Regions from separate parts of the Homo sapiens genome. Here region 1 is reported to be linked to region 2. Evidence: microRNA targets listed by miRTarBase, many of them from high-throughput screens and not tested one by one. Region 2 holds a microRNA gene; the other region holds the end of a gene's coding sequence.

Region 1 (3,135 bases), not on the chromosome of region 2:
TAGGGCCAGGGGAGGCGAGGTGATGGATTGGATATCTAGTAGGCAAAAAGAAGTTGAGGTGACTGAGCCTTGAGAGGGGAGGACAAGAGGAAAACCTTCATTGGTTTGGCCAGTAAGGTACTTCTGAGAACAAAATGTCTAATAGGATGCACAATGTGAACTCTTCTCCTTTGCTTACACACTATCTTCAGTGAAGTCCATATTGCTCAGGGGTGTTTGTGTGCATAGATTGTTTAGGAGAAGCTTGAAGGGGTGCCAAATTCTCTGTCAGGGCTGACAAGAGGTAAATGTGGAAATAAAATATGCAAACACGGGAATCAGGCATGGAAGGGATAGGTGAGATCCAGGTTTCATGTGAGAAAGATACGGTCTGGGCACAATTCAATTTGTGCTCCAGCAATGAAAAAGGAATAAGACGGCGCACTTCACTTGTAATCAACCTAAGGGAAGAAGTAAATCAAACAACTTCCCTTACTAAGAGTGTGACTGCTAGAGGCAGAGGTATCTGGAAGGATGTGGAAACTCTGCAATCATCTATTTGTACAACCCTTTTCTCAAGCCAAGGATATAAACCTGGGAAGACACCTATATTGGAGTACAGAATAAACCCATTTGGTGAATTTTTTTTGGCTGTGATCAGTTCTGTTACCAAGGACATGATTTAAATTTGTTATATTCAAATCTACATAGAAATCAGTAATAGAAACTGTGCAAAGGGTTTCAGATAAGGCAGTAATGAATCTGCCTACCTGCGGCATAGCACAGTGGTTAAGAGCATCAACCAGGTTTGGAGTCTTGGCTGTCGCTCTTACTAGCTGTGGAATCATGGGTCAATTACTTAACACTGCCCCTTCTTATCTTTTAAATTGGGGTAAGAATACCCACATCATTGATGGTTGCACCACTATGTAAATTAAAAATCATTCAACTGAACACTTAAAACAGGTGAATTTTATAGTACGTAAATTATACCTTCATAAAGCTTTAAAAAAATGAGTACCCACATCATAGAAATGATGTGAAAATTAAAATGTAAACTGGCACTCTGCCTGTCAGGTAGTAAACACTCAATAAATATTAGTGACTAATATTAGTGTAACAAAGATGAGGTTAAAGAATAATAAAGATATATAAAGTTAAATTTTTAAAGAATTAAGGAATTATCGGGCTGGTTGAAACTTTTGAGATCACTTAGTTCAACTCTTTCATTTTACAGAGGAGAAAATTGGAGACCAGCAGGTGAAGTGCCTTGTTCAAGGTCTAGCGCTAAGACCAGCCCCCAGGCCTGTTGGGCCCCCATTAGTGCAATTCCCACTGTCACCCACGGCCTCAGAAACATGGACACATGGAAAATGTAGGCTGTTTCCTTGGAGAAGAAATAAATACAGAACACAAAAAACATGCAGACATAGCGAAGAAAGAATTTCAAGGCCGGGCATGGTAGCTCACACCTGTAATCTCAATACTTTGGGAAGTTGAGGCAAAAAGATTGCTGGAGCCCAGGCATTCAAGACCAGCCTGGGCAACATAGCAAGACTTTATCTCTATTTTTTTAAAGTTATTCAAGAAAAAAGAATTTCAAGGCCAAGGGGCAAAACCAAGAAGAGGCTACGACATCCTGACTTAGCCAGGGCCTCCAGTGCGGTCCAGGTCATGAGAACTTAAGTGCTTTGGCAAGGCCAGACCCTGGTTTGTCATCAGGTGAACTGACTCATCACTGTAGCCAGGTGCCCGGAGGAGGTGAAGCCACAGTCCTGTCTGCTACTTACTGTCACAATATCTGTCAGCAGTGGCAGGAGATGGGGCTAAAAATATATGCAGCAGAATTCTTAGGAGCAGTCAGTCTGAGCACCCCTGAAGTGTGGACAGCTCCTGAAGAGCTGCTTCTGCCCATGCCGAGCAGTGTGACCTCAATTGTTTATCCCCTGGTGTTGCCTAATCGGCCCCTCTGGATTCTAAGGCCTTCACTTATAATCCCGTTGTAAATTGCCTGTCAGTTCCTCCATCATGGCAGCCTCTTCAGATGAATAAGGAAGCCTGACAGATGTGAAATGAGCCTGCTTCTTCATTAATGCTGCCATCTTCTAAAGTAACTTCATAGCAGGGCTGGACGACTTTGAAGCTAATAACAGCTTACTAAATTATTCCAATGCTAAACAGTGGACAGGAGAATGAGGTGTGTCTTCTAAATTATGACTTTCTAATATTTCAGGGGGTAACAGTCAATGAGTCAACTCTCATTCTTAGGAGGTGGTGGAATCCTGTTCCCACAATTTTGCTGAAGAGTAATTTAGGAAAGATGGCTGGTACAGACCCTTAATGTTTGTTATGTGATCCACTGGGGGAGGAGAAGGGGAAGGAAGGACAGAGGGGAAATTAAGGCCTGAAAGAGCTTTTATGATTTAACTTAGCACACTGAAACCTCTCAATGAATAATTCATAAAAGTGCCTCATTAGTGCCTGCAGTCCTAGCTATTTGGAAGGCTGAGGCAGGAGGACTGTTTGAGCCCAGGAGTTCAAGGAAGCAGTGAGTTACGACTGTGCCACTGCATCCCATCCTGGGCAACAGAGCAAGACCCCAATGCTTAAAAAAAAAAAAAAAAAAGTGCCTCATCTTCTTCAACCAACTATTTAAAATCAGTGGGAGGACAGAGGAGGTTCTGTCCATTCATTGGATTTGAATACTTGGGGTGCATATTTGCATATTATGAACAAATGAATAAGTTGGACTTTAGCTTTTCCACTAAAAGCTTTCCTATTTTGCAGATTACTCCATACAGTGAACACTTTGATGTCGGAGGAGGTGAGAGCTCCGACTAAAAGTCTTCTGACATTCTTGGCACTCATAAGGCTTCTCTCCAGTGTGAATTCTCTGATGTATGATAAGTTGGGAATGCTGGCTAAATGTTTTCTCACACTCGCTACATTCATAAGGTTTCTCTCCAATATGAATTTTCTGGTGGAGAAGCAGCTCAGAATTATCCCAAAAGGTTCTTGCACACTCATTACATTGATGGGGTTTCTCTCCAGTATGAATTCTCTGGTGGACAATAAGGTGAGAGGTCCGCCTGAAAGCCTTTCCACACTCAAAGCATTCATAGGGTTTCTCTCCAGTGTGAATTCTCTCATGTCTAA
Region 2 (3,135 bases):
AAGCAACTGGATGGGGTACATCCCTCTGCTTTGGGAGAGAAGGGCCAGGGCGGGACCCAGAGAGCTCTGCAGAGGCACCACAGACCCTCAGCAGGGGGTCTGCCAAACAGGACAGCTGGACTTGGCTGCTTCTGCCCAGGCCTGGATCCAGCCCTTGCACATCTCAGGGCAGGGGATAGGCCTGGGTGGCCAGAGCTGCAGCTGCACCTGCTGGGGAGGCCTAGTCCAGTCCTCCAGGGTCCCCAGACAGACTCGGATTTCCGACTGCAGCCACCATGGAAGGATGTGGTCTGCGGTGACGATGTCTATCCAGAGGCCATGGCAGGTGCAAGGGTGGGGGTAGGGGCAGCAGCTGGGGATGCTACATTTAGGGACAGCCCCTTTTTATCCCCAAGACCTGGGACTGTCCCTGAAAGGAACCACAGCTTCTGGGTCCTGAGCAGTGGGTGAGTGTCATACCCACAGAGGGGCTGGAAGGGAGCAGCTTCAGCCTAGACTCCCAGGGCAGACCCTGCCCCAGCCCCGAATATCCAAGGAGCCCAAGATCAGAGGCAGGAATAGGCCAAGCTCCCCAGTGGAGAAGCTGTGCTGGACCAGGGGTTTCCCAGGGCCCTCCCTTGTGCCCTGAATGATGTCTGTTAGGGCACCTACACCCTGTTACTGCTCAGTGCCTTGCCTATTTTGAAGGACAGGGATGTGTGGTGATTATTTGTATAATCCAGCCCCCAGCACCTGGTCCTCAAAAGTTACCCAAGCAATGTGTATAAAGATCCAGCCTGGAGATCTTTGAAAACCGATTCGATGAGTCGAACCATTAAGTCATGATCACCATCCTCAACTTCATCTCTTTCTTCCTCCTCCTCCTCATTATCATCACCTTCAAGAACTGTTAAGAGTCTGAGACTTCATCCTATTTGCAGACTAAAAAGTAAGCCTGCCACAGTGCCATGGATGCTGGCAGAAGATACAAGACTCCTGGGTCAGAGACAACGAATAATCTGTTTTTCACAGCAATAGCAGTTGCCAAGGTATCAGCATTGTCTTGCACCAGTTCCACAAGGTGATGCAAAGAGGGCCAGGTGACATCTGCATGCCAGAGCTCAGGGATCCCAAATATTTCATACTTGACAGTAAGCATATATCTGTGTTTTGCTCCAAAGAGAGGCATTCTCTGTACCTTCCGAGGTTGTTCACTCCACAAACACTCTTGAAAAGATAATCCACAATCAGTGCCTTTGCCCGAGAGACATGCAGAAATGCAGAGATCCATAGTAGACCACTGTCTCCCAACAACCATCAACTTTATCAATGAAATGAAGTCTCAGGCTATTTGTCTGTTACCATAGCCCACAAAAATGTCTGGCTTGATTGTCACCAAATGTATCAAGGAAGTTAAGGAGTATCTGACACAAAATGTGAACCAAGCAATTCTCAAAGGAGCCTCCCAGGAAATTCACTTTAGGAAGTCCTAGGAGGCTCCTCTGAGAGTTGCTAAAACAAAACATTGAGAGTCCTAGAGGGCTGCAGATCTGAACTTGAGCAGATATTTTTAAAGATTTTGTGGCAGAAAAAGAAACTGGAAAGCAAGAGGGCAGACCCTCATTGCAGTTCTGTAATGTAAGGGGGCAGAGCAGGGGCCTTTCTCACCAGAGTATGGGGTCCTGAAGATCTCCTCAAACATTTTTATACTAGGCTCTCAGGGCAACAGAAAAGATGGGAGCGATGAATGGGGCGTAAAGGAGTGCAAATGACACAAGGGGTCACATGAAGCAAAAGAGGTTTATTCAACCAGATTTAGTCCATGTTTAATTGAGCCACTCCTTTGTGCCAAGCTCTGGGTTTTCCCATGCACCAAGCAGTGTGTTACCACCTAGACCCAGAGAGCCATGTCATCATCAGCAAAGCACGCCCTAGTGTCATGCAAGGACCAGGCCTCAGATTCCGACTCCAGACCTACTGCCTCTTGGCCCTGTGACATTAAAAGAGTAGGGAATCAGCCTGAGCAGCATTTCCTCATCTTCAAATGTGGAGGACAGTAGATGATCTTAGCTCCCAGGATTAGTGCTTGTAAAGCAATAATAATGTAATGCATTATTATTGTATTATGCATCATATTCCCATATTATAGTCAAAAAGGACCCCAACTTAAAGCACCTGCCAGCCCTCTCCTCCTCCACCACTGCCGAATGGAGCCAGGCACGAGTATTCCAGGTGGACAGACGAATAGAAATACAGGGGACGAGCCCCTTCCTAGATCCTAGCGCAGCTTGCTCCCTACTTAAGGAATGATATTGGACCCTGCATTCATCTTCTCTGGATGGTAATTTTCTCACCTGTAAAACAGAGACACTGGCCCCAAGGACACCCCACAAGTAGTTGTGAATCCCAAAGTAAGAGAAGAACAAAAAAAGAACCAGAATTTATTCAACACCCACTGAGTGCTTAGCAAACACATGGTTTCTTTAACTCTCATAAGCTTCATGCTGCAGAGGAACTCTCCCCATTTTACAGATAAGGAAACTGAGGCCCAGAGGTAACCTAGGTCTAGATAGACTCCACATTTATGACTTCACCACTCTTCCTTGCCTGAAGGATATAGAATCACTCCCTGCAGGGCTCTTGCCTGACTCAGGAAAGGGCCACAGGATAGCCAGCCAGGCTTAACCAACCCAGCCAAGAAAGGGCTGGTCCCAACTGGCTGGAGTGCAGTGTACAGGCACCCAGCCTGGAAGACTGATCAGAAAAGAAGCCACAGCTCCAGCCCCAGCCCCAACCCCCTGAGCTCAAGCCCTTGGGGACTCCTGCTGGGCAGCTCTCTAGGCCCTAGGGAGATGCTCCACAGACCCAGGCTGCCCTTTGGGAAGTGGGGAAGACAAGTGGGTCAGGTGTGCACCACCCAGGGGCGGGGCCAGGCAGCCGGCTGTGGTGGGAGGCAGTTGAGCCCTGGATTGTGACCGCTTCAGGGCAGTTGGTAGATGCCCCTCTGGGAGAGATCCCCAGGGGTGACAGCCATGGACCCTGGAAGGGCCTGGGCTAGGGACAGGGACCAGAGCCAGTCCAGGGAGAGGACAGAGCCAATGGACTGGGGTGTACTGTAACAGCCCTGCTGGCGAGAGGGACCAGGGCACCGTCCTC

Evidence for each region. The annotated mature microRNA hsa-miR-5571-5p reads CAAUUCUCAAAGGAGCCUCCC and lies in region 2 at 1,426-1,446, shown strand. An mRNA with a match to its seed (bases 2 to 7 or 8) in the 3' UTR can be bound and repressed. Matches are read on the target gene's strand: a 7mer-m8 pairs with bases 2 to 8, a 7mer-A1 pairs with bases 2 to 7 and ends in A, and an 8mer does both.
Region 1: miRTarBase lists ZFP3 as a target of hsa-miR-5571-5p. Seed matches in the 3' UTR shown: 7mer-m8 at 259-265.

What each region holds. Positions count from the first base shown.
Region 1 is chr17:5,092,646-5,095,780 of GRCh38, reverse strand. ZFP3 (ZFP3 zinc finger protein) reads right to left here. Exons shown (of 2, transcript NM_153018.3): 2 at 1-3,135. The coding sequence ends at 2,768. Among named protein-coding and RNA genes, the nearest start is that of ZFP3, 16 kb to the right of the region's middle.
Region 2 is chr22:22,884,866-22,888,000 of GRCh38, forward strand. It overlaps MIR5571 (microRNA 5571), which reads left to right and starts at 1,402; the gene lies at 1,402-1,514. It overlaps IGLL5 (immunoglobulin lambda like polypeptide 5), which reads left to right and starts at 2,951. Exons shown (of 3, transcript NM_001178126.2): 1 at 2,951-3,135. It also overlaps IGL.